Homo sapiens: one gene and its partners. The protein of the gene in region 1 purifies or fractionates together with the protein of each later gene. This does not show direct contact. Each region holds a gene or a part of one and is shown on either strand. Other genes may lie near its edges. The genes, in order: SIRPD, HIKESHI, EPDR1 and DIRAS2.

What was found.
Region 2: the proteins of SIRPD (region 1) and HIKESHI purify together in Homo sapiens (affinity purification with mass spectrometry; 2 studies listed by BioGRID and IntAct, with this or other methods). This does not show direct contact.
Region 3: the proteins of SIRPD (region 1) and EPDR1 purify together in Homo sapiens (affinity purification with mass spectrometry; 2 studies listed by BioGRID and IntAct, with this or other methods). This does not show direct contact.
Region 4: the proteins of SIRPD (region 1) and DIRAS2 purify together in Homo sapiens (affinity purification with mass spectrometry; 2 studies listed by BioGRID and IntAct, with this or other methods). This does not show direct contact.

The regions. Positions count from the first base shown.
Region 1 is NC_000020.11:1,547,378-1,555,541, reverse strand, and holds part of SIRPD (signal-regulatory protein delta isoform 1 precursor), read left to right. Parts: intron 1-3,492; exon of another isoform or gene 3,493-3,503; coding exon 3,504-3,851; intron 3,852-5,348; exon of another isoform or gene 5,349-5,494; intron 5,495-5,683; coding exon of another isoform or gene 5,684-5,733; exon of another isoform or gene 5,734-5,791; intron 5,792-5,942; coding exon of another isoform or gene 5,943-6,088; exon of another isoform or gene 6,089-8,164.
Region 2 is NC_000011.10:86,332,651-86,340,814, reverse strand, and holds part of HIKESHI (protein Hikeshi), read right to left. Parts: intron 4,852-8,164; exon of another isoform or gene 3,882-4,851; intron 3,437-3,881; coding exon 3,285-3,436; intron 1-3,284. UniProt on the Homo sapiens protein: Acts as a specific nuclear import carrier for HSP70 proteins following heat-shock stress: acts by mediating the nucleoporin-dependent translocation of ATP-bound HSP70 proteins into the nucleus.
Region 3 is NC_000007.14:37,922,808-37,930,971, reverse strand, and holds part of EPDR1 (mammalian ependymin-related protein 1 isoform 1 precursor), read right to left. Parts: intron 1-8,164. UniProt on the Homo sapiens protein: Binds anionic lipids and gangliosides at acidic pH.
Region 4 is NC_000009.12:90,610,981-90,619,144, forward strand, and holds part of DIRAS2 (GTP-binding protein Di-Ras2), read right to left. Parts: intron 2,884-8,164; 5' UTR 2,848-2,883; coding exon 2,248-2,847; 3' UTR 1-2,247.

The DNA of each region.
Region 1 (8,164 bases):
AGGCTAATTAACATATCCATCACCTCACATACTTATCACTTCTTTGTGGTAAGAACATTTAAAATCTACTCTTTTAGCTAGTTTGAAGTATGCATTAACTATAGTCACCATGCTGTGCAATAGATCACCAGAACCTATTCCTCATGTCTAACTACAACTTTATAGGCTTTGACCAGCATCTCCCATTTCCTTGTCCAACTCTCCACCACCCCAGACCCTGGTAACAACATTCTATTCTTTACTTCTTTGAGTTTGACTTTTTTGGATTCCACATATAAGCGACATTCCACATATAAGCAAGATCATGTGGTATTTGTCTTTCTGTGCCTGGCTTATTTCACACCATAATATCCATGGTGTCATAAGTGACAGAATTTTCTGATTTTCAAAAGCTAAATAGTATTCTACTGCATGTTTGTGTGTGTGTATGTGTGTGTATAATCACATTTTTATTCCTTTATACATTGATGGGCACTTCAGTTGTTTCTATATTTTGGCTATTGTGAATAACTGCAATTTTGTAGAACTTATCTTGTAGACATTTTGTGTATCTGCCATGAACTCAATGTCAGTGTGGCTTGTGTGCTACCCAAGAATACACAAGAGCAATTAAGTACTAAGGAATAAGATTTTGTTTGGTAGAATTGATCATTGACAAACCAACCATTGTAATATCTAAGATAATCCTACACTCCAAAAACCAGTTGTGACCTTTTATGGAAAATAGCAACTTCATTGAGAATGCATGCCTCAGTGTTTACTCTGGGAGAGGTGAATGAGTGGCCTTTCACACCACAGAACACCCGGTATGGGAGGGAGCTGCCTCCATATGCAGGTCACTCCATATGCAGTATGTTGGTTATCAACATACTGTCCTTAGCTTGGGGCAGTATCCCTGATTTTGAGACAATTAGAAAAATCTGACCCAAATTCTATTTTGCATTTTCTCATTTAATAAAAATATACTCATATATTTATTTAAAATATGTTTATTTAGTGCCTAATATATTGCAGGCCATCCTCATATCCCGATGCAGAAGGAAAGTGTCATTCTCCTATTTGTACACTGGTACCTCCCCTTCACCTCACATGGCACCCAGCATTGTAATTTTTATATGACTGGTGCCATCACATGATGCTGAAATAAAGCTATCATACTGAGATCCCACCTTGACCTATAACCAGACCCTCAGAGCATCTTGAGCCAAGACAGAGAACATAAGAGATGATTCCATGTTTATTTCCAGGAACTCCAGAAGAAGAGTTCCAGGTGAAATAGCCTCAGACTTTAGTGTCAGTCAATCCCGGAGATGTCCTAACCCTGGCCTGCAATATGTCTGCTCTGTCCCCAGAAGGGCCTGTCTTGTGGTTCAAGAGCATTGGGCCAGGACAACAATTAATCTTTAGTTGCAATGGAAGCCACTTCCCCAGAGTAACTCCAGTGGAAAACACAATGGTTGATCAAACTGACTATTCCATTCGCATCAGTGACGTGTTGCCAGAGGATGCTGGCACCTACTACTGTGTGAAGTTAAGGGTAGGACACCCTGACATGGAGTTTTTCTCTGGTCCAGGCACCACCGTGTATGTGAATGGTGAGCACAGCCTGATGCACTTTATTCCCTGGGTTTATGAAGATGAATCTTTAAAACCCTTCACCATGTACCAAATCATCACTACATACTGAACACCATGCTCCTTTATCCACGAACTACCCTGTAGACTAGGTTTCTTCTAATAGCCTTTCTAGTAAGCCATTCTGGACAACCTGTGCCAAATACTGAATCAAGCTATGTTGACAAGCCACATCCTTCTCTGATGCCAACCCCACCAGAACCCAATGACATAGGAGACATTTACAAATAAAAAGATACTGGATATGCAAGGTGCAACTACATGTGTGCACTGCATGGCCTAAATGGTAAGAAAACTGGGTCCTAGAAGGCTGACTGACTTCTAAGGTTTTACGAAGAAACCTGGGCCCAGGTATATGCATTGTGTATATTATGACTTATTCCATGACCCTGAACTTCCAGTCACAGATGCTAGTAGCCACATCTTAGCTTCTGATGGAATCTCAACATAGGTGAAGTTTTCCCCAAAATGCCCAGTATCTCCTGGGCCAAAACAAAGGGCTCTTCAGGCAGGTAGAATCTCTACATGCCTCCATGATCCCAGTCACCTTCCCATTACCAACTGGAATGTGATGGGGACCTGATAGCAAGTACCTGAGTGGTCACCACAGTCCAGTCTGAGATCACACTCCCATTCCCCATACAAGTCAATGAGTGGATGTGATCTCCTACCATGGCCTGGCACTGTTGTTAGGGAATTCTTAGACCAGAATGAGGGGTCTTGTGTATCAATCTCTCCAAAGTCTTTTTTGCAAAAAGCCTTCCCATAGGGGTTGAGTCATTCCCTGACACTTGAACTTTCCCAGGTCTGTCCTGAGACTTCCATGCCCAGCCCCACTGTTCTTTAATTCCCAGTATTTTTATTCCCAGGATAACCAGTATTTCCTTCTCCTCACCACCCTCTGAATTAACGTCATGAAATACAGTGGTATTAGGTGTCCCTCAGTTCTACCAGGAGAACTGACCTTCCCAGTAATGTTTCCCTTGAATCCAGACACATTCCATAATGCCAAAATGGCAATGGAAAATCCACAGGTTTCCCTTAAGTTACATAATGTCAATGCAGGCTGCCTTCCTACCATTACCTCCTGGCCCTGCCAGCCAGGAGTTCCCTTTCTCTCTAACCTGCTCCTTAGGCAGTCTGTGGTTTTGACAACCAAGCTTAATAGGAGAGATTATTACCAGGACCTGACACATTGTAGGGTAGTGATGATGACTGTGTAGGAGGGTAAAGGGTGGCTGGTGAGAACCTCCAAAATTGTAGAGGGCCCTTGAGGTTCTAATCTCTTTTTGTTGAGGAGAGGAAACCCTCTCCCTTCTCTCTCTTGAAGAGATAAGTAGTGGAACCATATGCTGTTGCCAAGACCACCTCATTCTTTAATTGTTTTAACTTCTTCTGTGCATCTCTCAGCATGAATTTCTGTACAAATTCAGAGGCTAATCACCCTTCAGAGGAGAGAGGAAGGCCAACCCCAAACTCAGTGGAGATGTAGGGTTGAAGGACAGGACTTGAACCCAGTTCCAAATGTACCGAGTGACTCTAGGCAATTAGATGGATAGGGAAACTAGTCTTTCTCCAAGAACATTACCCATTGATAATTGCCCCTTCTCTCTCCCTGTCCTCCTCTTACCACGGTTGAGGGCTGAGGAATGGAACTGAGGAGGAATACATCTGGTCTTCTGGACTAACTCCCTTCCTTCAGCACTCTAGGGAGAAGCTGCCTCCATGTGCAAAGGCCTCTCTTTACTCAATGCATGGGCATTTGCGCATGTCATTAAAAGAATTAATGAATGAGGCCCAACCGTGACCCGTACCCATGCTTAAGCCAGAACAGGGGAAATGAGAAATGATTTTCAGCTTTTTTCCAGGAGTCACACATGTGTTCCATGTGCAACAAACGGAGATGTCACAGACTGTATCAACTGGGGAGTCAATCATCTTGAGTTGCAGCGTACCCAATACCTTACCAAATGGACCTGTCTTGTGGTTCAAGGGAACAGGGCCAAACCGGAAATTAATCTACAATTTCAAACAAGGTAACTTTCCCAGAGTAAAAGAGATTGGAGACACCACCAAGCCTGGCAACACAGACTTTTCCACCCGCATCCGTGAAATCTCTCTTGCTGATGCTGGCACCTATTACTGCGTGAAGTTCATAAAAGGAAGAGCTATCAAGGAGTACCAATCAGGTCGGGGCACTCAGGTGTTTGTTACTGGTGAGTATGTCTCCTATACCCCATACCCCCTGGTGTATAATATCATCTCAGCAGTTATGTCTTCTATTCATTCAATAATTGCTATGTGCCAAATATTATTGAAGGTACAACATACATTTGATCTTTTTAATTCTCTCAGCAAGCTGTGAGTTAGGTATTTTACAGGAAGAAAAAAAGACTTGAAAAGGTTGAGTGATGAGTGATAAGAGCTATTTTGGTTGATTTCTCAATATTTAATCCACCCCCATGACTAACCTAAGCCAACTAGGATAATTCCATGTTCCCTGCTAGAGGTTTACTCAAATATGGGCTGAACTTGGCCAGTTTGGGTCTATCAGAGAAAAAGACAGGCTTGCAGAAAAATCTGGTAATCTAAAGTAATTCTTCCCTTTGTTGGCTGGAAACAAGCAACTGTGTTGCTCCAGGTGCTTTAAGCAGGCATCTTATGACCATGAGGGGAATAAGGTTGAGAAAAAGTCTAGATGAATGCAGATATGTAACAAGTGTGGATTGACAATCTGCACAACCATACTGCTCCTTGTTCCAATCTCACCTCTGGACCTCTAATAATGTGAAAGAAAACATCTCCTTGCTAAGCCAATTTGCTTAAATCAACAATGTCCTAAGGGCTACAAGAATGATAAAAGTCGCACATCCCACAGTGTGTTGTAGTGTGTTGAACTGCAAGTACAAATCTATGTTTCCCTGCATCCAAAGCCTTTTTCTTAGTGTTTTGCTACTTGTGGTGCCCTGTGAAATTTGGGCAATATCCAGCCTGAGAAATTATTAAATTGGTAATACAATAATGCTAACATTTATTGGGCATCTACTATATTCCAAACATTTCATCTATATTATCTACACAGCAACATTTGAATTGCTGGATGCTTGTACTCACTGTACAGATGAGGAACCTAACTCAGGGAGATTTCAGGAGTGTACATAGTAGGGAATAAAGAGGTGGGGTTGGTCTGGGCCCAGTCCAGTATGTTCTATATTAGTGAAGAACATTTACTTACAAGAAAGAAGATCAAATGCATTAATTTCAACCAAAAATATGAGTTGATTGATTCTGTACCTGCAGAGGATTCTGGGTTCCTCACAGTATTCAAGGCAGAACTTTTGGAACCAGGGACTAAAGGATTGGATTTAGGGCTTAATGTTACCAAGACTGTGGCTCTCTGAAATTCTCTCATCTCTTCATGGCTTTAATCTTTCCTGCTGCATATAAACCTTCAGTATATGATAGCGAAAATAAATGCAGAAAATGTTGATATTCATTCCCCCATCTTACAACCAAGGTGGAAAGACAGCTTCTTCCTACCAACCTTCACAAATGAGTTCTAGGGAACTATCCACATTAGCCTTTTGTATGCCATGTTGTCAACATTTTATTCGTTGTTGCTAGGGAGAGGAGGTCCATGGGAGATAACCAATCAACCCAATGGAACAAATGCTAAGCAGGTTGAAAACAAAATATGTTCATCCACCACATGGTCCACACCCTACCTTATCAGATGAGGAAGTTGAGCCTCTGAAAGGTTAATGGGCTTGTCTTCCAGGTTATGGGTACTGGAACCCAGGTAGACTCTTCTCGGAACCCTTTGGGTTTATGGCTTTGCCTCCTTCTTAGTAAGAAGTCTCTAGTTAGAGTGGAGATATAGGAGTGCATGACAGCTGTTTAGAGGGAGAATACTGTGAATGAGTTCAATATCTTTATTAACATTCAAATGTTCTGAGTCAGAAATGTACCAAATTTATGCCATTTCTTAATAAATAAAAATGTATACATATGTTTTTAAAATACTTAGCTATGTATTCGTTTCTTGTAGTTGGTGTAACTAATGGATACAAATTTGATGGCTTAAAACAACAGAAATAGACCACTATGGGTGGCATAACAGCACAAGGAGTTCCAAGGGCCCACTCCATGGAAACTGGTGAAAATTATTTTTAAAAAATATTTAGAGGCTCTGGAAATAGTATTAAGGGCATATCATAAATGAAGAAATAATTTTTAAACTACTAAAACTGGGGAAGAAAAGTAAAAGTCTGATATTTGAACCAAAACCCACCTTTTCCCTGTCAAAGGCTATACCCCATGGCAAAGAAGAGGAATCAACTGCACCAAAATAATCCATCCAGTCACTCAACAACTGTACAAGCAGATGACAATAACAAGCCTCGGTGGTTGTGAGGAAGACCAATATCCAGAGTTTCTACAATGTATTATCTAAGATGTCCAGTTTCAAAAAAAGTGAGACATGCAATAGAACAGAAAACTATGACAAGTATACCAAAAACAAACCAAAAAAAAAAAGGTATCAGAAACTGCTTGTTATGGCCATCAGATGTCAAACTTAACAGGCAAAGCATTTGGTGTAACCATTACAAATATGTTCAAAGAAACATGATTAAACAAACCATGATTAAATAAGTACAAGAAAGTAACATGATAATGTTGCATCAAATAGAAGATATCAATAAACAGAAATTATTAAAAAGAACCAAATGGAAATTTTATTATTCAAAAGTACAACAATTGAAAGAAAAATTACCCTAGAGGGGATTAACAGTAGATTTGAAGAAGCAGATTTAGCAAATTTGAAAATAGATTAATATAAATTATGGAATCTGAAGAACAGAGAAAAATTAAATGAAAATAACATTTAAAAAATGAACAGAGCCTCAGAGAAATGTAAGCCATCATTAAGCACACCGCATACATGTAATAGGGATAGCAGAAGGAGAGGAGAAAGAGAAAACAGCAGAAAAAAATATTCAAAGAAAGAATAGCTGAAAACTTCTCAAGTCTATTTAGTCAGCTGGACCGGAGACTGAAAAAGGAAACTCAAATTACTAGAATCAGAAATGAAGGAAGGAACATTACTAGCAACTTTATAGAAATAAAAAGGAATATTAAAGAATACTATGAAAAAATGTGTGCCTATAAACTAGGTTTATATGATGAAAAAGACAAACTCCTAGAAGACATAAAAATTACCAAAACTGGCCCAAAAATAATGGAGCATTTCAAGATACCTATAACAACTAAACAGATTAAATTAGTAATAAAAAATTACCCTGATATCGACACCAGACAAAGACATCACAAGAAAAAAACACAGATCAAATATATCTTACGTATATGGACACAAAAATCCCTTAAGAAAATACTAGCAAACTGAAACCAGCAACATATAGAAAGCATTATTCATGTTGACCAAGTGGGATTTATCCCATGAATACAAGGTTGGTTTAATATCTGAATGTCAATTAATTTAATACAACACAATATCAATAAAATAAAAAAGAAAACCACATAATCCTCTCAAGATGATAAAAAAAAAGGAATTTGGTAAAATCTAAAATTCTTTTATTTAAAAAGGTACTCAAAAAACTAGGAATAGTAGGGAACTTTATCAACCTGATAAAGAGCATGGATGCAAAACCCATAGCTAACATCATATTTAGCAAAACCGAAAGCCACAGCCAATGTCACAATTAATGAGGATGGTTAGATGCTGTCCCCAGTAGATCAAGAATAACACAAGGATATCTCCTATCACCATTTCTACTCAACGTTGTACTAAAATTTTTAGTCAGGACAATTAAGTAATAAAAACAATCCAAATTGGAAAGAATGAAGTAAAACTATCTCTATTGACAAATGGCATGTTCTTGTACATAGAAAATCCTAAGGAACCCACTAAAAAACTATTCAAACTACTGAGCAAGTTCAGCAAGCTTGAGAGTACAGTTCAATATACAAAAATCTATTACATTTCCACACACTTGGAATGAACACTAAAAATAAAAATAAATTTAACAAAAGAAGTGCAAATTTATACTCTGAAAACTACAAAAAAATGTTAAATGAAAGAAGATCTAAACAAATTGAAAATTTTCCCATTTTCATGGACCAGAAGATTTAACATTCTTAAGATGGCACTATTCCCCCAAACTGGTCTACAGATCCAACACAATCCTTATCAGAATCCCAACCTACTTTTTTGTAGAAATTGACAAGCTGATCTTAACATTCATGTGGAAATATGAAGGATCCAGAATAGCCAAAACAATCCTGAAAAATAAAGTAGGAGAACACACGTTTTTCTTTCAAAACTTACTACAGGCTGGACGCAATGGCTCACGCCTGTAATCCCAGCACTTTGGGAGGCTGAGATGGGAGGATCGCTTGAGGACAGGAGTTTGAGGCCAGCCTGGTGAACACAGTGAAATCTCATCTCTAAAAATAAATAAATAAAATAAAAATAAAAGTTCACTACAAGTCCACATCAATCAAGATAATG
Region 2 (8,164 bases), on another chromosome or scaffold:
AAATTAGCCAGGCCTGGTGGCACGCGCCTGTAATCCCAGCTACTTGGGAGGCTGAGACAGGAGAATTGCTTGAACCTGAGAGGCAGAGGTTGCAGGAGCCGAGATCACGCCATTGCACTCCAGCCTGGGCAACAGAGTGAGACTCCATCTCAAAAAAACTATTTGACTAATATCCAGAATCTACAAAGAACTTAAACAAATTTGCAAGAAAAAAACAACCCCATCAAAAAGAGGGCAAAGGATATGAACAGACACTTCTCAAAAGAAGACATTTATGCAGCCAACAGATACATGAAAAAATGCTCATCATCACTGGTCATCAGAGAAATGCAAATCAAAACCACAGTGAGATACCATTTCACAACAGTTAGAATGGCGATCATTAAAAAGTCAGGAAACAACAGATGCTGGAGAGGATGTGGAGAAATAGGAACGCTTTTACACTGTTGGTTGGCGTATAAACTAGTTCAACCATTGTGGAAGACAGTGTGGCAATTCCTCAAGGATCTAGAACTAAGAAATACCATTTGACCCAGTGATCCCATTACTGGGTATATACCCAAAGGATTACAAATCATGCTGCTATAAAGACACATGCACACATATGTTTACTGCGGCACTATTCACAATAGCAAAAACTTGGAACCAACCCAAATGTCCACCAATGATAGACTGGATTAAGAAAATGTGGCACATATACACCATGGAATACTATGCAGCTATAAAAAAGGGTGAGTTCAAGTCCTTTGCAGGGACATGGATGAAGCTGGAAACCATCATTCTGAGCAAACTATCACAAGGACAGAAAACCAAACACCGCATGTCCTCACTCATAGGTGGGAATTGAACAATGAGAACACCTGGATACAGGGCAGGGAACATCACACACGGCGGGCGGGTCTGTCTTGGGGTGGGGGGCAGGGGGAAGGATAGCATTAGGAGAAATACCTAATGTAAATGACGAGTTAATAGGTGCAGCACACCAACATGGCACATATATACATATGTAACAAACCTGCACGTTTTGCACATGTACCCTAGAACTTAAAGTATAATAAAAAAAAACTATTTGACTATTTAAACCAAATACATGTAATACTCATAAAAATTTGGAGTAACTAAGTAATTAAATTAGAAACATGTTTAAACAGATACAGATAGTACTATACATATTTTGTGGATACACAGGAATTTTTTTAAGTACTAAAATATGAATAGGAAAGATATAAAAAGTTAGAAGGTAAAAGGCAGGAAGAGAAGCAGGCAGCAGTGGGCTATATCTATAATGCCTTAATTTCTTTTTTAAAAATTAGTGGCAAATAAGACAAAATATAACAGTTAAATCCAGGGGGAAGACAATGGAAGTCTTAATGTATACCCCACCATAAAGAGAGCTCTGTAAAGACAGGTGTTATTCTATTTTGTGGACCTATTTGTATCTATGAGTGCTTAGAAATGCCTGGTACAGGCTGGGCGCGGTGGCTCACGCCTGAAATCCCAGCACTTTGGGAGGCCAAGGCAGGCGGATAACGAGGTCAGGAGATCGAGACCATCGTGGCTAACACGGCGAAACCCCATCTCTACGAAAAAATACAAAAAAAATTAGCTGGGCCTGGTGGCGGGCACGTGTAGTCCCAGCTACTTGGGAGGCTGAGGCAGGAGAATGGCGTGAACCCAGGAGGCGGAGCTTGCAGTGAGCCGAGATCGCGCCACTGCACTCCAGCCTGGGCGACAGAGTGAGACTCCGTCTCAAAGAGAAAAGAAAAAGAAAAAAAGACATGCCTGGTACAGAGTAGTTACATAATAACTATTTGTGGAAAATATAAGTTACTCTATTTTCTCTGTATTTAAAATATTTCGTAATACATTTAATTAAAACTATAGTTTTATTTTAAAAACTCAAATAATTTATAAACATGTACAGTAAAAAAGTCTTCTTACCCTTCTCCAGGGATAACATTTTAATGTGTATTTTCCAGACACTTTTAAAATATTGTCTACACAGGATACTACGATTATTTTATAGTTTGTTTTCAGCACAGCAGCTTATTTGTAAAATTATGGGAAAAAAAACATTTTTGAGACCCAGAGTCTGTCATTCTCAATTCAGTCCATTTTCAAAGATGTGACAAATCTACCTTTACATTCATGACCACAACCTTCAAAAGTGCGCCTCTGGTACTGCCAGGCAAACACATATGGTTTCCCTAATCCATTCACTCCTCCTCTGCTAGAAGACTTATTTAGTAGTCTTTTTTTATTTCAATTTCTACTACCTCGATCTTAGCTGATGATCGTCCTTTCTATTTCACTAAGCAAGAAGAAATCAGGAGACAGCCTGCACAAGTTCTCATCACCACATCTACCAGCCTCCTGAATCTGTACCCATATATCCATTATCCTGTCTAAAGTGAACACCTCCATATATGCTGCTATTTTCTACTCAAGGACACTGCTTTAGCAGTTCTCCTTGCTCTCCTACATCATCAATTTTTCCTCTTGATAATAGGCTAAGAAGTCAGGAACAGAAAGACAAATAGCATGATTGATCTCACTTATATGTGGAATCTAAAAGTTGAACTTACAGAAGCAGACAGTAGAATGATGGTTGCCAGGGGTTGAAGAGTGGAGGGGAAGGGAAAATGAGGACATGTTGGTCAAAGGGCACAAAGTTTCAGTTCAATGGAATGAATAAATTCTGAAAATCTATTGTACAGCATGGAGAATACAGTTACTAATAATGTATACTTGTAATTTGCTAAGAGATCAGATCTTAACTGTTCTCTACAAAAAAATGATGACTGTGTGAGGTGACTGATATGTTAAGTAGCTTGATTTTATGTCAAAATATAGGCTGGGTGTGGTGGCTCACACCTGTAATCCCAGCACTTTGGGAGGCCGAGGCAGGAAGATCACCTGAGGTCTGGAGTTCGAGACCAGCCTGGCCAACATGGCAATACCCTGTCTCTACTAAAAAAAAAATACAAAACTTAGCCGGGTGTGGTGACATGTGCCTGTAGTCCCAGCTACTCAGGAGACTGAGGCAGGAGAATCGCTTGAACCCGGGAGGCGGAAATTGCAGTCAGCCGAGATTGCGCCACTGCACTCCAGCCTGGGCAACAGAGCAAGACTCCATCTCTCAAAAACAAAATAAAACAAAACAAAATGTAAACATGTATCAAAAACATCACATTGTATACCCTAAGTTACGATTTTAACTTGTATATTATACCTTAATAAAGCAGTGGAGGGGGAGGTAAAGAATGAAATGTATGTTGCATTACCTGAGTGAATGAGTCAACTGAGGATACAGCAGCATTACCTACAGGAGTCTGCTGAGCCATACTGTCTAATAATTCCACTGAAATTCCAATCTGAGCAACAGATGGAGTTCGGACAATATTCATGGCTCCAAAAGGATGTTGGCTTCCTTCTCCTGCAAGAAATTAACATATGACACACATTTCAAATTAAACTTGTAGTCACACAATTTCCTTTGTAAATTTATAAAGAACCTCTAATTTATATACATGAAAAAGTTTTATGTCCAAGTTTGTCCCTCTTTTCAGATAAATGCAAAAGCCTACTTCGTTTTTAGCATATTAACAAAGAATAAAAGAACTAAAAGTTTCCCACCAGAAAAATAGCTGTCACATTTCTGAAATGTATTGAAACTACTGCAACTAGACACAGACAGTAACAGAGTGTGGGAAAAATAAATAATTAATAGAGAAGACTCCCTTTAGCATTCCTTATGGAGCAGGTCTGCCAGCAATGACTTAGTTTTTGTTTATCTAGGAAAGTATTTCTCCTTCATCTCTAAAGACAGTTTTGCTGAGTATATAATTCCTGGTTGATGGCTTTTTTTTTTTTCCTTTCAGAACTCTGAATATGCCAATCCACTACCGTCTAGAAGACTATGGGGTCTCTGATGAGAAATCAGCTATTAATCTTAGCAAGGATCCTTGCATGTGATGAGTTACTTCTCTTGATGCTTTCAACATTCTCTCTTTACCTTTTGACAGTTTGATTATCGTGTGTCTTGGTGTAGTTTATCCTACTTGGAGTTTCTTGAGCTTCTTAAATGTGGTTAATGTTTTTCCTCAAATTTGAGAAGTTTCTGAGCATTATTTATTTAAATATTGTTTTAGTCTGTTCAGGCTGCTATAACAAAACACCATAAACTGGGTAGCTTATAAACATCGGAAATTTATTTCTCACAGTTCTGGAGGTTGGGAAGTCCAAGATCAAGGAACCGGCAGATTTGGTATCTGGTGAAGGACCATTTTCTGGTTCAGACAGTGCCTTCTCACTGTGTTCTCACGTGGTAGTAGGGCAAGTGATCTTCTTATTACTCTAAGAGTGGTAATCCCATTCATGAGGGCTCTACTCCCATGACCCAGTCACCATCCAAGTCCCTACCTCCCAATACCTTGGGGGTTAGGATTTCAGCATATAAATTTAAAAGACCTCATCATATAAAAAGACACAAACATTCAGACCAGAGCAAATATTCTTTCCAGCCCTCCCGCCTTTCCATATGTTACTCTCATTACACTGTGTCTGCTGTGCATGTTGGTGCACTTGAGGGTGTCTCACAGGTCTCTAAGGGTCTGCTCTTCAAACTGGATATTCCAATTAATTTATCTTCGACTTCACTGATTCTTTCTTCTGTCTACTCAATTCTGCTATCTAAGCCCTTTAGTGAACCATTCAGTTACTGTACTTTTCAGCTATAAACTCTGTTTAGTTCCTTTCTATAATTTCTATATTGATATTCTCTATTTGATGATGTATCATTCTTCTGGTTTCCTTTAGCAATTTGAGCATAATAAAGACAGCTTACTTAAAGTCTTTGCCTGTGCTTCCCTGGGGGAAGTTTCTGTTCGTTTCCTCTGTATAAGAGCCTTACTTTGTTTCTTTGTATGTTTCATAATTTTTTGTAGAAAACTGGACATTTTGAATATTACAATGTGACGACGCTATAAATCAGATGTTTCCACCTTCTAGGGGTTTGTTGTTGCTGTTTATTGTAGTTGTTTCCTCATTTAATGACTTATCTGAACTAATTTTGTAAAGTCTGTTTCTTTGTTATGTGTGGCCAGTGAAGTCTCTGTTCCATTAGTTAGTAGTCTGCTAGTGATTAGAAAGAAATTTCCTTAAACCTCTGCAACCAAAAAATTCTGCCAGTCTTTGCAGATGGGCTCTGCGTGTTGGGACATGCCTTTAGTATTCAGCCAGGCAGTTTATAACTCCACCTTAGTCTTCACTTCCTGCTTGTGCGGAGACTTAAAGTGAGCCAGAAGAGAGAGCTCTGGGTCTTCGCGGGTCTTTCCTGAGCATGCACAAAGCTCTGGGAATGCACGTACCCTTCTAGATTACCAAGAATATGTCAGAGAATTTCAAAGCCCTCATTCCCCAAAGCATCTCATTCCCAACCTTTCTGGTTAGTTTTGGTTTACTCCAACTGTTTTCCTTTGCCTCGGGCAACAGTAGCTAAAACATATGTCTGTAAATACTTTTAACAAACACCCCCAAGGTAGATACTTTTCCATGAAGAGTTCCAAGTTAGGTGACATAAAGGCAGACCTCTTTTTTTTTAAACAGTCTTCTAGCAAGCCACCAGACAGATGAAAACAAGTTAATTACAATTCTTTCTGAATTAGGTCTATCCTGCTCCCTATATCAGTACCAGGAATGGAGTCTGTTATTTTCAAGGCTATCACTGAGCTGAGAAGCAGATGGGACAAGGGTAGCCAAATGCCACAAAGCTCACTGTTCTTACTGAGATTCAGTGTATTTTCTTGATTAAATGTTCCCCTGATTGCTACAAGCTTTTGGTTAGTTACCAGAGTTCCAAAAAAGTTGATTCTGGGTCAGACACAGTTGCTCATATCCTGTAATCCCAACACTTTCAGAGGCTGAGGCAGGAGGACTGCTTGAGCCCAGAAGTTTGAGACCAGCCTGGGCAACATGGGGAGACCCCATCTCTACAAAAGTTAGCCAGGCGAGGTGGTGCATGCTTGTGGTCCTAGCTACTTGGGAGGTGGAGGTGGGAGGATCGCTTAGGCCTAGGAGATCGAGACTACAGTGAGCTGTGATCTTCTGACAGTGTTGTTGTTGCTTTTATGGAAGACTGGATTTTCTGGAGCTCCTTACTCTACCGTTTGATTTCTTTTAAATCTAGAATTATGCTAAAATCCAGAAAACATATCATTATCAAAGCATATCATCAAATAGATGCAAAAATAATAAATTATAAATCATAATACAAAGAAGAGCAAGCAAAATATATGACCTAGTCTTAATATAAAAAACAAATGTAAATTAGATCAAGTTCTTTAAAACACTGTTAACAGTAAATGCAGCAGCTAATTTTTTTTAAGACTCTTTCTCAAAGCATCCCTCCTCCATGTAAATCAAGAGCCTAACACAAAACACAACTCAGAGGAAAAATTCCTACAGGGAGCTAGTTCTTTATTCTCAGTATACAAGGAAAAGCAGTCACCATCATTTGTTATTTGCATCTAATGGAAACTTTACACACACACACACACACACACACACACACACACACATATTTTACAAAGAATGTTGAGAAGAATCAGGAAATAGTGGAAAACAACTTTATTAGATTTTTTCTAAGTATTTAAGTACAGCAAATCCAGATAGTCATTCCACATTTTCCTTGTTTTTAAGATATAGCTGAAATGGGCTATGTCCTGTGAATACAACTGCCCATCAACCATCATGGATAAACATGGAACACATGCGTCTTATGGAACACATCCATTTTATAAATTTCATAAGTCAGATATCTATTAATAAAGTTATAGCTTATGGTTGTATCTTGTTCTTTTTTTGGCATCTACATTGCCATAATATAATACCTGAAAGCTTGAAGTTTTGAAACCTTTAACGGCTCATAATTTGTTGAAGGATGGCTATCCTCTGATCTACATTTTGCAAAATATTTTCATTTTTAGATTTATAACCATTATTTAGAATGATCAAGCCAATTATTTTTTTTTTCATTCCTATACCTATTTCCTTCCAATCACTTCTCTATACACCCCTGCTTTCAGCATTTGTCTATTTATAAAACCATATCCAGTCTATTTTGGAACACAAATATAAGAGATAAAAGAATAGCAGAACACATCCTTTACTACTTGTCCATGACAAAATATTATGTGAGAAATTCCTTCTTCTTAAATGACTGAGTAGAATACCATATTTCTTTTCTTTTTTTTTTTTGTTTGTTTGTTGTTGTTGTTGTTGAGACAGAGTCTCACTCTGTTGCCCAGGCTGGAGTGCGGTAGGACGATCTTGGCTCACTGCAACCTCCGCCTCCTGGGTTCAAGCAATTCTCATGCCTCAGCCTCCCGAGTAGCTGGGATTACAGGCCTGTGCAACCACACCGGCTAATTTTCAAATTTTTAGTGCAGACGGGGTTTCACCATGTTGGCCAGGCCAATCTGGAACTCTTGACCTCAAGTGATCCACCCATCTCGGCCTCCCAAAGTGCTGGGATTACAGACATGAGCCACCGCACCCGGCCTCATATTTTCTCTTGATCCTTAAAAATACATTGTTCAATCATCAAATTTTTAGTTGAGAAAACTCAGATAATGAGATCTTATTTGAAGATTCATAGTAGGTAATTTTGCTTATATGATCCACTTTACCATCGTCATCAGTGTAGAATTTACCTTTCAGTATTCATTTTCTGATTTGTCTAATAATTGTGAAACTTCTTCCTCTGTCAATTTTCTTCTCTTTGCCATTATGAACAAAATATTTAAAAGTATGAATTTACATTCTGTTCAATAAAAGCTAAAAAGAGACCATAAAGATGGTGTCTCCAGTCTCCTTTTATATTACTTAAAAGGTGGCATAATCTTTTGGGCAATGCAACATGAAAATTGTAGGTTAATGCAATGACAAACCAAGGCCCACAGGCCAAATCGGTCCCACAACCTATTTTGTATGACGTGGGAGCTAAGAATGGTTTTCAAATATTTAAAGGGTTGTTTAAGAATAATATGCCACAGAGATCAAATGTAGCCCACAATGCCTACAATATTTTCTAACTGATCCTTCACAAAAAAGTTTGCCAACTTCTACTCTAGCTAATTCCAACATTTTTCTTTTTTTATTTTAG
Region 3 (8,164 bases), on another chromosome or scaffold:
ATGAAAGGAGTAAAATGGCTTGTTTCTCTAAAACAGAAGACCTTGTGACAAAGCTCCTTATAAACTTATGCAAACACACACACTATAAAAATTCCTCTGTGTTTTAACAACTGCAGAAATTGACCTTTTTGAGGCTTGATTCAGCATGATGAAAGAGGACTACAAACCACCAAAACACTTCAAATTCTTTTCAATATACTAAGTGGAACCTAAATAAATACTTGTCCTGTGCAAAAGGAACTGTGTTCTGATGTCCGAGAAGTGGATTCCCAAGCTTCATTTCCTAACTCCTTAAGGAGAGTTGAGACCTCAGAAGGGTGAGATCTCTGGGGTCCAAGGGTAAGCCAGGCCGTGCCTGAAGCTGGGCTAGGATGAGAATTTCTATTCAAAAGGACAGGGTGTGTGACAAGGGACAGGTGGAGGGCTTGACTGTGAGAAGAAGAACTCCCACACCTACAGGAAACACAATCCATGCCAAGATACAGCACCTGATGTGGCATTTCCAATGGATATGAAGTCTGGGGCAGATTCTCTTCCCCCATCCTTCACTCCCAAGAGTGCCTGCTGGTACTCAGATACTCCTCATAAGTTATATGTTACCTATTGCTGACAATGCTGCGTCAGGCAGAGCTGTGCCCTTGGCCCTGCACCACCGGCTTCCCATCTGCCACTGTCTTCCCTGGTGGCTTCTGAGATGCTCTGGAGCAGCGTCTTCCCTGAGAGAGCTGGGGCTGTGACTCTGGTGCCTCTTCCAAGGTGAGCTTTTGGCTGTCACTCATCGGCAGGGCCCACATTCTAGAACTCTACCAGAAGATCTAACTTTAAGCCACAACAAAAGCAGCCTTCTGTGAGCGGGCAGGAGTCATCCAAGGCATGTATATCCTTTTCCTCCAGGAGAAGTTGCCTTCTTTAGGGGAGCCATCATCCCAAGAGTTTCTCCTTTCTTTGGGGGGACTGAGGGTAACTTAGGCACCCTGCTAAGGATCTGATTCCTCTTCAGATGGCCTCCCGACTCAAAAAGGCACTGCTTCTGAGAAACTGTGGGTGCTTTAGAAATAAATCTCAAATGCCCACATTGGGTGAAATTCCCCAAAATTGAAATTGAGGCACAAGAGAGACACTGAAGACAGTGTTTGATGAGAGGGCAGTGGGGGAGTGGCTCATGGGCGAAAGGAGTTTGGGGCATCCACTCTCTGGAGGTGGTGGTGTGCCCTCCACTTCAACCCTACTGGAAAACTTTTCAAAACACTGCAGTGTAATTCGATGTCAAAAATCATTCTTAACAGAAAAGAGGTATAACGTAACATATAAATGAAAAACCATGAAACCATTACATAAATCTATCATTTTATTGTCTAAGAAATTTAATTATAAGGAAAAAAGGAAAGAAAATACATATCTATTATTTAGGTATCCTTCTACAATGAATGTATATTATCAGTTATTCATTTCCCTCATTCACTGATTCAAAAAAAAATAAAAATTAGTCAGGCCCTGCTCTTAGCAGTTAGAAAATGGAGCTTGGGAATCGCCTTCTCCGACATCAGAACACAGCTCTTTTCATATGGGACAAGTATTCGTTTAGGTCCCACATAGTATGTTGAAAAGAATGTAAAGTGTTCTGAGGAGTTAGAGACACAGCAACAACCATACAAAACCCCTGGCCTTACGGAGCCTTATTGTGCATGAGGGAAGGTGGGGGAGATGAAGGAACAAACTTTAACGTTAAACACTCTGCCAGATAGTCATAAGTGCCTTGGATATATTAATATAAAGCAGTGAGGGGGCACTGAGAATGTTGAGCAGAGAAACAGTTCAATTTGGGAGTAAGTCATGCAGCTTCTTAGGAAAAAGTCTTTCTAGGCAGAGGGAATGACAGATTCAAGTGCCAATGGGGTCAGCGTGCTGAGGCCAGGTCCACAATGAGTGAGCTGGTGACAGAGATAAGGTAGGGAAAAGGCTGGGGAGCAGATCCTGAGCCAAGAAGTGGCATGACGTATTTTCAAGAGAACCCCTGGGGTTTCTATGTGGAGAACAGACTAAAGGGAGCAAGGTCCGAAGTGGGGACAACTGTTAGGAGGCTATCATAAACATCCAGCCGAGACATAATAAAAGTTTGGGCCAGAATAACAGTAGAGGTATGGTCAGATTCAGTATATATCAAAATTAGGGTATAGGTAGGAACATAAAGAGATGAGAGCCTGAGCCCTGGGAGAGTCCACTATTAGCAGTCCAGAGAAGAGCAGAAAGAGCAAAAAGGCTTGAGGAGAGGAAATAAGGTGGGAGAAGGAAAACCAGAAGACTAGCATGTTGAAAGCCAAGTGAAGACAGTGCATCAAGATTGGGGAATTAATCTACAATAAGATGAGGACTGATCAAAGATTGGTTGATTAGTAATGTAGAGCTTCTTGCTTTTGACCAGAGTATTTTCAATAGAATGGTGACAAAAGTGATTGGAGGGTGTTCAAGAGAGCATGGGAGTACAAAAATTGTAGTTAGCATGAGATTTGCTTTAAATAGAAGAGGAGAATGAGATTTCAGCTGGTAAGATCAAGAGAAGTTTTTTTTTTTTATTTAAAGATGGGTAAAATAAAAGAAAATGTTAAGGGGGAAAATAGAAATTTTTTACTGGAATTGGTGAAATCTAAGACTATCATATTTATTCCAGGAAAAACAAACCACTAATTGGTGGAATATTTTCAGATCTTTGGGCACTTTGCCCCTGACCACCATCCTCAAGGTCAGAATCAGGAAGAAACAGCTCAAGGTTATTGGAGAAAGTAAAGATGTTTTCAAAGCAGTATAGTGACCACCTCTGGCTTCCATTCGTAAATTTGTCTTACATTCCATCAGCCTCCTTACTCTCCTGGGCTTATCTTCTTTGGATCTTTTTTCCCCAGTGCCTGCTTCTCCCTCCCCATCTCAGCATTAATTGTCTGAAATCCAGGGTCTATAGACACACTGAATTAAGTCCCTTAAATCAAACTTTGTGTGCTTCCAAGAAAATCTGTTTCTTGAAGAAAAACTCAAATATTGCGAAACTCAAGTATTGCAAATCAGTATGGTTTATTCTTTGAGGATCAGGAGGCCACAAGCAGTCAAGACTTCCTCAGCTCACAAAAGAATATGCTATCTCCAGCCATCTGAGACCAAAATGATGGAGTAAAGGTCAAAGGAGAAGTCATGCTCTTAATATTCACAAAGTCGTGATTTCTTAAAATGAAAATCCAATCCATGCAAGACAAGATTCATGATCAAATAGATTTATTGAGCACTTTATATTAGTCTGCCTCCCCCAGTCACACAGAAACACCCTCTGAGGATTTGTAATGATGACATACTGAGAATCCAAAAGCAATACAAACATATGTTAAGAACATAATTTCATCTACTCCTTTCTCTTGAACAATTTAGACTAAAGCCACTAGGTAGGACCAAGGAAGATAGGCTTCTACATGGGCTGGCCTGGAGCGCAGAGCCCATGTGTGAAGGAGACAGCGTAATGATACATGACTGGTTACCTACTGCAATTGAATAGTAAGCCAGTTTTCTCACTGGCTGAGAAGGGAGTAGCAAAAATGAAAGGAAAAAAAAAACTAGAATGAACCATGTAGTGTTGGATTAGAATGAAGGCATCAGTTTAAACACCTGTATGGATTAGAACTGGAGGTTCAGAAATAAATATAGATGTAAATGTGTATATATGTATGAGTGTGTGTGGGGAGGGATGTGTGTATTCAAACTTAACACCCCTTGCTTTGTCCATTGAGAGGACCTGGTAGCAGTGCCACCTGATAGCACTGAGCATGACCAGAGCACAGGTTCTAACTTCCACATATTATTCTCCAGGAAAAGTAACCAGGGCTTCTTGAAAAATGGTTTATCCTAGGACTGGGGCAGGAAAAGTATAGATGATCTTGAAATATCTTGCTGTGCCGGAAAGCAAGGAAGTGCCCAAACACATCAAAAGAACATAGAAACCAATTTGAAGAGGCTTCCACTGGCCAAATCTAGGACATTATGAACAGCAAAGTAAACAACGAGAGCAAATAGAACAAAATTAGAAGGCTTGAGTCCACACTGATACAAATAAAGTATAATTCAGAAGATTAATGAAGAATGGGATATGTACATGGTTTTAAAATATTTCCCTACCAAATCTTACTAATTAAAAAGAAAAAATGTATCATTTCACAGTGAAGAAGGCTGGCAGACAACAGTCAATCAGGTGATCAAAGTGAACATCAGGATGCAATTGGAACAGAGTATTATCCCTGATATTCCTGCCAAAGGTAAGTAACTTGAATCTAATTATGAGGAAACATCAGACAAACCCAAATCAAGGAACATTCTACAAAATAACTGGCCTGCAATCTTTAAAAGCACTAAAGTGCAAGGAAGACTTAGGAACTATTCCAGACAGAAAGAGACCACAGAGACACCACACTTAAGTGTAATGCTTGCATTTAAATCTTTTTTTTTTTTTTTTTTTTGCTATGAAGAACATACAAAGAACAACTGGCAAAACATGAATGACACCTGAATTTCAGATGGTCAAAATGAACTGGTGTTAATCTCCTGACTTTTATGGTTGTATTGTGGTTATGCAGGAGAATGTCCTTGCTGGGAGGAAATACACTGAAGCATTTGGGGATCGTGGGTATATCAGTTTGGCAACTTACTATCAAACAGTTCAGGCGAGGGGGAAGCTCTTTGTATTATAATTGCAACTTTTCTGTAGGTGTGAGATTGTTTCAAAATAAAACAAAATTATGTATTTGAAAAATAATCCTCATCCTCCTTTCCAAACACATAAGATTACTGAAGTTACCTTAGGTGATAGCAGCCCTGGGAATTAATCATCCACAGCTGATACTTGGACCAACACCCCTATAAGCAACACTATTCCATTCTTAGTAGGAAGGGAGGCTCAGTTGAGTGCAGAGCCTTCTGAGTTTGGGCCCGAGGCATTTCAAGGTAGCCTCTTCTCTTTTTCTACTCATAAGCACAGGCTTAGATGAAAAAGAGAAGGAAGAAAAAGAACTTTGAATTAATTTGTCTACACAATGGGACAGATTGAGAAAAAATTTAAAATCTGTGTCAAGTTCATTGCATTAGAAACAGTGAATCAGCCTGATATAATAAAAGTACAATTGGTGCCTTCAGGATATCATTTAATACTATCTGTACCTAGCATTTAACAAATGAAAGCCTAAAAGTGATTTAGTATCAACATTGTAGGCATCATTCAAATTAAATTAAAAGATGAAAAACACAGAGGTTCTGCAATGTTGAGGACCTTATTGGGGTGAAGGCAGGATTAGAAGCCATGGTTGTCACTCCATCATGGTCTAACATGAATGCCCCTGCTCTCTCCACTACAGGAGGCTGATTCTCTGTTTAAAAAAGAGGTTAATGCTATTCTCTTCTCCAAGAAATAATATGCTCTGGGAGAATCAAGAGAAGCAGACATGAATTAATCAGAATTTGAATAAGAATCCACCTGCTGCCCCATTTGTGACATATTTTTCATGTTTTACAAATACAAATCCTTAATAGAACATGTACGACTGGTGATGAAATAATATTCCAAGATACCAGACTGTGCATATTGTTTTACTGCCTCTCTGCTCACTCTGCATTAAGAGCTTCATTGATTCCAACACCCAAGCCACCATTTTGTAAGGGGGAGCCTATAGTTACTGGTGGCCTGAGAGGGTTCATTGTGTATCAACGCTGCTTCCCCTATAAAGTTCAACATGCTGCCTGAAATATGAAAATCATCTTCTTGATTTCCTTCAGTCTTTCAAATAAATACTTGTGAATTTAATCAAGGAGTCAGAAAAGACAGTTGGAATTAGAAAATAAAATGGTATCAATTACTAATATTTCCCATTTGCTGCTCAGGCTTGTCTTATCTGAAGCTTGTAAAGTTGTTTAATCTTTTCCATCATCTCAGGGAAAACAGAGCCTGGAAAATCCTAGTCATTCCACAGTAACTATCAATGGGATTTTCCATAACTATCTGGATGCAAAATGAAAATCTTAAGAAGTTGATCCAATTCTAAAACTTACTTCTCAACTTACTCATAAATATGAAGAGACAACTCATCCATATTTTCTTCAAATAACATCTGGTTGCTTGGCCAGACTGTTAATACCTGAAAAAGTTTCTGAGTTTGTTCCAACAAATCTACACTTAAAGAGCTTAAAAATGTGTTTATGCATTAAACATTCTTTTCCACATCTGACTTAGGGCCAGCGATGTGACTGTCAGAAAGAACCTTGCCAAGAACTCGGAAAGAAAGGGAAAACAATGTCTTTTAGAAGTTTAACTGTGAAACCAGCACCTATTGGATTAGGGCAGAGGAATGAGAAATCACCGCAAAGGGACAAAAATGCTTCTAAGCCAGCAAGAGTTGGCTGTGACTCCACTAAAGGTATAAAACACACATCTAAAGGCTATATTAGTCAGTCATGGAGTCATGGAAGAAGGGTTGCTCAGACAGACTTGAGCAGTACTCACCAAGGGTCCATTCTGAGTGGAAGGGGTCAGGAACAGCACAGTTGGGGTAGCACAGAACCACCACCAAGTCATCTCTATTGTGAAAATCAATGCATCACTTTGCCTTTGCCTGATTACCATTAAACCTTACCCCAGGCTGGCCTGTCTTATTCATGATGGAAAACTCCACATTGAGCATACAGCCTAACCTAGGGCAGGCAATCATTAGATGTTTGCTCAATGAATTTGCTCCAACTCTTTGCTCACAACTGCCTGATGATAATTTGGCTCCCCACATAGTTCTGACTACAGGGAGAGAATGACCTAGTCTGGTGGATTTGAGAATGCTGGTCCTCATGCCAGCAATAAGACTCATTGAAGTAGACAGGTTTAGCATTTGAGTTTCCTTACTCGAAGGTTGTTCCCAAAGGAAGGGTCTGTGTGTGCTGCTGTATCAAGTTTCTGAGCCCAAAGGGCTGGCAGCAAGTCTCTGGGCTATGGTAACTTTACCAGGATAATGATGATAGTGGTAGCGATGGGACCAACCTTGGCCATGAACAGAGCATCTTGTGCGTACTATCAGACATTGTACTGTATGTTTTATACACTTGAGCTCATTTAATTCCCATAATAATCCAATAAATTAGGCATTATAAGTATTCACATTTTGTAAATGAGGATACTGAGACTCAGAAAGCTTTATTAACTTACCCAAAGACCCATATTCAGAGTCTGGATTCAGATCCAGATTTGTCTGACTCTAAAGTCTAATTTTTTTAATTGTAAAAAAAAAAATACTACCTTTGGAGAGATGAACCCTTATCCTTCTCTTTGACACACTCCTCTGCTTCAGCAGTGTGCTCTCGGCCATCCCAGTCCATCTTCAATATGACTATTCATCAATGCGCCACTACTGTACAAGTCTTCACATAAAATTACATAGGATACCAATGCACCCTTAATTAGAAGTGCACAAAGTCAAGCCCTGTTGCAAGGAACAGCATCACCATCTACCCTATGCCATCAGTACCATTAGCTTCACAAGCCAAAAATGGGGGCCTCTTTAACGTTTTCCTCTCCCTCACCACGCCTGCCACAACCCGTCCAATCATGTACATTTTCCTCAGTTGAACCTCTTCAATACTTCCCTAATGCATTCACTTGCCCCCTGTTCACCATTTCCATCGCTACTACCCATCTCTCACCTGGACCACTACGACAATCTCCAAGATTGTGTTCTCACTTCCACTTTTGCTCCACATGGCTCCATTTTGTGTCCACATCTTGGGAATGCATTCTTAAGGACACATCCAGGGATCTTTATATAATCTAATCACAAATTCCACTGTTTAAAACTCCTCAGTATGACCCTTCGCCATGTCCTGGGCTTCAGCCCTAATAGTGAGTGGTCTGTGGTTTTTGGAATTTACTCAGCTCTAAAAACTCCGGGATGGCACACACATACCAGGCATGGATACACCTGCATCCCCCTGGACCAGCAGTCTCTCCACATCTCCCTGGAAAACCTGTACAGGTGTTTTGGAACTCACTCTCATTTCAGCTCCTCCAGGAAGCCTGGGTTAGGTGCCCAACTGAGTTCTTCTCATCACAACCCCAGCTCTCACCCCTCATCCCACTGTATGGAAATTTTTTTTATTT
Region 4 (8,164 bases), on another chromosome or scaffold:
AAAACCTTATTAATACTACAGTCAGTGGCAAAGATCGCATTCTACTGTTAACAAAGAACCCAATCAAAATCTATAGGTCTACTTTGGCCATGAAGTTCTGTTTCTTCTTCCATTTAACCTATACCCAAATTAAAACTTGATCATCTCTCTCTCAGAATAGAAACAGAAAAAAAATGTCGGGACAAGTTGAAAAACAAATGTTCCAGAAAATCCGCCAACTAAAGATCTCATTGCGAATGCTGTGCAACAGCTTTTTAGAACAGAACAATCCTGCTTGAGGAATCTGAAGGGGGCCACGGGACTGGCCCAAATGCTCTTCACCCCCAGCTGGCTCCCACGCCACTTCTCTGCTTTCTCAGCTCAGCATGAGTGTTCCCCCTGTAAAGTCAGGGCGGTTTTGTTCTAGGAGATCATGGAGTCAAGCAGTTCTCAAAGGCACCTCCCACGCTCTAAACACATCCCAAGGGTGAGTTATTGGGAGACCAGAGAGGATGAGATCAGGACAAGGGAACTGAACCAGAAAAGGCTGAAGAAAACTAGGACATATTGAGAGAGCAAGTGTGCTTTGGGGGATGGAGATGGCCACACTGCTGCTGCTGCAAGCCCTGCATAGGAGGGACAGGAGAAACAGCAGTTGCAGGAGGTGGCCTGGTCAAACATCCCCAACTTAAGCCCTCCCTGTGCTGACACTGCCACCCAACAGCCATGCAGCCCCCACCCCCCCAGGCAGGCCCACGTGGGACTGCAGCTCCTTCTGCCTGCCAGGCGGGTGACAGGAAGACTGCTGAGAGGATGATGCCACAGTTGGGGCCAGTAAATGTTCTGCCAACTGAAACAAACAGGAGATCTAACAGGCACTATCAGTGGGAGTTTTCAGGAAGCCAAGTCCAACCAGGCTCTACGATGGCAGAGCAATTAAGCTGAGTGGGCTCTTCCCAGGGCAGAGAAGCCTGCCTGTCTCCAGCCACCATCCTATCCCCAAGCTAACACAGGAAACCTGAAATAGCTGTAATTTGGCTTGAAAGATTAAAGATGCACACAAAATCATTAAGAGAAAAAGATAATTGTTTCTAGAGTGAATACTGTATTGAACAGCTCTTAGAAGACACGTATAATGGAACATGCAAGAGAATTTACTATTATTTAAATGCATTTTCCAGGAACATATTTCCAATACAGATAGATCATCAAAAACACAGTGAATAACTTCTGTTTCAAAGTATTTCATTAAGGTGCAAAGTGTGGCATATACATGTTTGTGACACTACAAAAATGGATGTGCTTCTGGTTGTCTGATGGCCTTTGCTGGCTGCTACCCAGCTGGGTACAGATCGAGTTATTTAAGAGAAGAAAACCACCTTGGAGGAAAAAAACGTCTAAAAATAGTGAGTTTATTTGCTTGTATTTAAAATCTGAGGGCTGAAAGAAGTTATACTCCTCACAGGTCAAAAGAAGAAAATCACATTTCTAAAACCCTCGATGTATAACACACAGGAACATTATTGCGATGTTTTAATACTGTCACGATATCCTCACTTAAAAACTGAAGAACTTCCGACAGAGCAGCACACTGTTAGTGCACTTATCCCTGCACATGAAGATAAATACTCTAATAGCTTAAAATGATACTTCCTAACTAGGTCTAGGTAAGGTGAACACATCCCCTCAGGGTAGCAAGGCTCCTAACAGGCCAGGTGGGAATTAAGAACGGACACCCTTTGGGGGAGAGGCTGTGTTTTTTAATCCCCTTTAAAAAAGTGTAAAATGGACCAAGTGTGGTCCACTTTGGACCATCTGATCTTCTCACCTCTTCCTGCCCCTCCCCTCCCCCAAAGATGTGATTGGCTTCTGTCTGGGGTTGGTGCAGGTAACTCTAGGTTAACACGCTCTCACATGCACGTAGATGACATTTAGTCCTCTCGGTACATGTTGCTTTGTGGGTACCAGTCCTCCCTCCCACCTTCGGGTGTTCATCGCCACCTTCAGCAATTGCTGGCACCTCTCAGTTCCCAGGGATGCTGAGTGTGTTGGTTTTCACTTGAACCGCCTGGCAGATTCTGTGACTCCAGAGTGGGTGGCTTACTGTTGGTGGTGTGAAACGCCCTCTTAAGGACAATAGGACGCATCTCGATTAAATGCAATGTTTAACACGTGGGCATTATACATGCTACCCTGACGACGGTGGGTGTCATTTTGGGGGAGTGAGGTGCCGGGGACACACAGCTGCTCCTCCCGCAGGAAGGGCCTTCACATGATCACGCACTTGCCTTTGAGCTTCTCTTTCCTTTTCTGCTGCTTGCTCTTTTTCCCGTCGATCTGGAGACTCACGGTCCTGCGCTTCTCCAGGTTGAGCAGCTCCTGGAAAAGCTCCTTCACGTTATGGTTGAGCTTGGCTGAGGTCTCCATGAAGGCACACTTCCATGTGCGGGCCAAGGCCTCCGCCTCGCTGCTCTGCACCTCGCGGCTGGGGCTCTCATCACACTTGTTCCCCACCAGCATGATGGGGATGCTCTCCACGTCCCCTTTGATCTCGCAGATTTGTTCGTAGATGGGCTTGAGCTCCTCCAAGGACTGTCGGCTGGTAATGGAGTACACCAGGATGAAGGCGTGCCCTTTGGAGATGGACAGCCGCTGCATGGCCGGGAACTGGTGGCTCCCCGTCGTGTCGGTGATCTGCAATGTGCATATGCTCTTGTCACAGCTGATCACTTGCCGGTAGGTGTCTTCCACCGTCGGGATGTAGCTCTCCCGGAATGTGCCTTTCACAAACCTCAACACCAGGGAGCTCTTGCCAACACCGCCAGCCCCAAACACGGCCACCCGGTAATCGTTACTCTGCTCAGGCATGTTGCTGGAGAGCTCCAACTCTCAGCCAGGACGCACCTAGCAAAGGAACCAGATGTTTGAAAGAATTAATAATTAAAATATAAAAACATTAATAAGGATAGCTCTACCCTCTTTTGATAGCTTAAAAATGGGAGGTGATAACATTTAAAATAGCGACAATTCTAAATCCAATAAATTTGGTCAATCCGCCGTTTTCAAAAGGACAGACGATCTACTCAGGGGCTCACTGGAGCCCATCTGTTTCTCTTTATTGGACCATGACAATGAGCATCTTTGCTCCCACATAGGCCCTAAGCCCAGGTAAAAGATGCAAAGTGAGCCCGAGAGACAGCACCAAGGAAAGGCAATGAGAAGATAAATTAACTACCCCCGTAAAAACACAAACACACATATGCACACACACATCACCATCATCAACAGCAGCATATCTTTGCTGTTTTACCTGAAGTACTGAGTACCCAATATACTGGTCATCATAATGTGTGTGTGTGTGTGTGTGTGTGTGTGTGTGTGTGTGTGTGTGTGTGAGAAATACTGGGAGAGGGAGATGAATGAGGGAAAAGGATGTTCTAATATTTATTCAGTGTTTATATTAACTCATGAAATCCTCACCACTCTGCAGGAGTTGGTGCCATTAGCTCTGTTGTACAATGATGAAACTGGAAACAAGGAAGAGATCGGGAATGGAATGTCTCTGATGTTACACAGCAATAAGAGGGAAGGCTAGGATACAACCAAAGCATTGTGGATGTCAATGCCCATCCCATAAGCTGTCTGTAGACAGAGCTGGTCCCAGTGACTTGGGCGTTACTCAGGCCATAGTATAGATTGTCTCCATTAAGTATGAAGAGTTAACTAATAAGTGTGGATAGTCATTTCATTCATCAAAATTAAGATGATTATATAAGCTTTATTTTTAAGAAACATAAGGAATCAGGTATTACCAGGATAGTAGCATAAACTACTTTTTAAGGGTCATTAAAAATGAGGAGAATGCAGCAACTCTTCATCACAAACTTCACCCCTAGTTTAATATTTATTTTTATTCAGGGATGTGTAGATGTGCCTTCTTAATTTACAATCTATCAAAATTTTTTCATTCTGTACCTTCTTCGGTAAGGAAGGACATATAACACCAAACAAAATAGAGAATTACACAATTTGGATACATTTTTAAAACTGAAGTTGATAAGTAACATGGTAATGTGAAGCATGGAATTCATTCTTCTCAGCAAGCAGGCATTGTGCTGACTTTTCACCTTTCTAGTTTTAGGGCAACTTTGGAAAAACAATAAAAAGCTTTACTGAAGCAAATAAGTTTTAGAGTCCAGTAAAAATATTAAACATAACTACCAATGGAAGGAAATGCATTTGTGCAGTGAATATGTTCTCCTGACAGACAGAACATCAGGTCAAAGCCCTGGACTGAGGTATTCCACCTTCTCATTTTGCCTCATGCGTCTGCCTACAAATCTGCTCGATTCAATACTCAGCTGTTCTTGCATGCACTTTGGAATCCCAAACCCTCCAAGAAGCTAAGGAAACATCAATGCTAACAGAAAATATAAAAGACTGTTAGGAAGTTCATTAACACCAAAAGATGGCAGAAGAGTCTGCTTAGGAGTTTGGTGAAGTTTATTAAATGCTTATGAGATAATTATGATTAATTCAAGGGTGAAGCATTGTGATAAATTTTTCCACAATTTTTTTAAAAAAACTCAATCGTGTCTTAGTTTGTTTTCTGTCACTATAACAGAATACCTCAGATGAAATAATTTTAAAAGCAATCTACTTCTTACAGTTCTGGAGGATGGTAAGTCCAATATGAAGAAGCTGGATCTGGTGAGAGCCTTTTGTTGCCTCATAACATACTGGAGGGCATGGCATGATAAGACAGAGCAAGCATGTCAGCTAGGGTCTCTCTCCTTGTCTTATAAAGCCACTGATGCCATGACAGGCATTGCCCAGCCTCCTCATGACCTCATCTATTCCTAAAAGCCCCACTTCCAAATACCATGAACATACACATTTGAGGATTACATTTCTAACATATGCACTTTTAGGGAACACATTTAAACCATAGAAAATGGACAATGGAATCTAATCTTAAGCTTCTTTCTACATCCTCAGAATGAAGCTCTCTTTTTGCTTAGAAGGGAGTTTCCTCACTCGTTTTGCCTTGTATTATGGTTATGTAGCTCCAGACTAGAGCATAAGCATCTAGCTGGAAGAGAACATATCTTAACAAGTTCTGCATCCCAATGTATCTCAAAGATCTCTTGGTTCACAGCACATACACTCTTTATGAGTTTGCTGAATATGTGGTCAGCTATGTTAAGGTGTCTCCATTATTAAACTGGCAACGAACACATAGGAAGTAAATGCTAAACATAAAATAAAGTATTCATGGCTACAATTATTCATTTACCCAGAGAAATATCCACTGAGCTTCCACTAAACCAGGCTGTGGACAAGCGGCCAGAAAACAACTGTGCAGAGGACAGACTTAAGGAAGGATCTCTATTCTCATGAAACTCAGAATCAAGTAAAGCAGACATCAATCCAAAAGATAACTTCATAAATATTTAATAAATTATATCATAGCAAGTGCTGCAAAAGAGAGGTCTGAAGGAATTTCATGAAATTTGAGATATCAGGAAGAATTTCACTAAGGAGGTGGCATGGAAGCATGAATCTGAAAGATGAACAGGAGTCAGAAAGTTGAAGGGGTATAAAGTTCAATGTGCATTTATGAGATAGGCCTGGGCCAATAACTCCATAGTGATCTTCAACTCACTAACAAAAACCCAGACTGTAGAGAATCACTTGAACCTGGGAGGTGGAGGTGGCAGTGAGCTGAGATCATGCCACCGCACTCCAGCCTGGGTGACAGAGCAAGACTCCATCACAAAAAAAAAAAAAAAAAAAAAATTGTAAACTATTTTCTTCCATGTCAGAACCATTCATTTATTTCACAAGCATTTATAAAATGTCTTCTAGATACTGTGCAAACTCAGTGCTTACCCAACAGCACTCACAGCATTAGAGGGGGGACAAGCATAGGAAAGTATACATTACGCCCCACTTCGCAGATGCTGTGATCTAGTTATCAACAAAGGCAGGATAAGAACCTAGTGGGGAATCTAGCTCTGCCTGGAGCCCTCAGGAAGCATTTCACAGAGGGCTGGAACTTGCCAGATGGTGAAGTGATGAAAGGCGTGTTAGTCAGAAGAAAGAACTTCATAGGAAGGAATAAATGGAGGAAATAGAGCTAATGCTCATGCCATGGTAGACAGCTTGTGTAAACTGGCATCCAGGAGTGAATTTGGGGTAGCAAGTGAGTGGTGGCACTCACCATCAATCAAGATAAAAGGCAGAAGAGAGAAGCAGCTTTAGAGAAATGACAGTAAACAACAAGGAGAAAGGAGCTGTGATTGGGTCAGGTTTATGGGACAAATGGGGGAGATATCTGGTAGGTGATTGGGATTTAGTGTGAAAGTTCAGCAGAGAGGACTCATCTAGTGATAAATATCTGGATACCATTCATACACAAACAGCACTATAATAAACAAAAATTCTCCAGGGAGAGAGCATGTAGAATGAAAGGAGAATACCACATGCCCAATCTGTTATATGCTATTGAGAGAACTTGGCAAGTTACTTAAACTTTCTGCATTTGAGTTGCTTTAGCTAGGAAATGGATATAATAATGCCAAGTTGTTTATGAGACTAATGTGGGGAGTAACACAATGCAATCAAGCACTTGAACAGCTCTCAGCACATAGTTTTTTGGCTACATTCAAGAAGGACCATGCAGATAAGGGGTTCATAAAGGAGCAGTATGATGGACAAGGAGAAAAATTCACAAGAGGGCAACTAGCTATTAAACTCATTCAATAAGATTTCAGAATACAACATTCATATAAAGAACCAACTGTATTTCTATACACTTGCAATGAACAATCTGAAAATGAAATTTAAGAAAATAACTCAATTTATAATAGCATCAAAAAGAGTAAGATACTTAGGAATAAATTTAACAAAAGATGCAAAACATATCTGGAAATTACAAACATGGTTGAAAGAAATTGAATACACGAATAAATGGAAAAGCACCCCATGTCATGTATCAGAGGACTTTTACTGCTAAGATAGCAGTATTTCCAGGAATCACCTACAGATTCAATGCAATTCTTAAAAGCATCCCACTAGCGACTCTGCAGAAACTGACAAACCGATCCCAAAATTTATGTAAAAATTCAAGAGACCCAGAATAGTCAAAACAATGTTGAAAAATTAAAAGTGAAAAAGCTGGCAGACCCATACTTCCTGATTTCAAACTCACGACAAGGATATAATACATCAAGAAATTGTGGTACTAACACAGGATACACAGATACATGAACAGAATAGAATTCAGAGTCCAGAAATAAACCCTCATATTTACAGTCAATTGTTTTTTGACAAGGGTGTCAATAAAATTCAATTCAAAAGGCAGAAGGAATAGTCTTTTCAACAAATGACGCTGAAACTGGTAAAAGAATAAGGGGAGCACCTCTCCCTCACACCATACACAAAACTGACTCAAAATAGATCAAATACCTAAATATAAGAGCTAAAACTATAAAACTCTTAGAAGAAAACATAGGTATAAACCTTGATAACCTTGGAGTAAACAGTGTTTTCTTAGATGTGACACCAAAAGTATGAGCAACAAGATTAAAACTAGGTAAATGTGACTTCATCAAAACTAAAGGACACAATCAAGAAAGAAGTAACCCACAGGATAAGTGAGTATTGTTATAAATCATATATCTGATAAGGGACTAGTTCTGGTATATACAAAGAACTTCTACAATTCAACAACAACAAAACAACTCAATTAGAAATGGGCAAAAGACTTAAAAAGACATTTCTCAAAAGAAGATATATGAATTTATTGACTATATTTAATAGTCAATAAGAAGATATACAAATAGCCAATAATAAGTCAATAACATGAAAAGATACTCAACATAATAGTCACCAGGGAAGTGCAAATCAAAACTATAACAAGCCTGTAATCCCATCACTTGGGAGGCCGAGGCAGGCAGATCACAAGATCAAGAGATCAAGACCATCCTAGCCAACATGATGAAATCTTGTCTCTAAAAATACAAAAATTAGCTGGGCATGGTGGCGCATGCTTATAGTCCCAGCTACTCAGGAGGCTGAGGCAGGAGAATTGCTTGAACCTGGGGGGCAGAGGTTGCAGTGAGCCAAGATCTCACCACTGCACTCCAGCCTAGCAACAGAGTGAGACTCTGACTCATCTCAA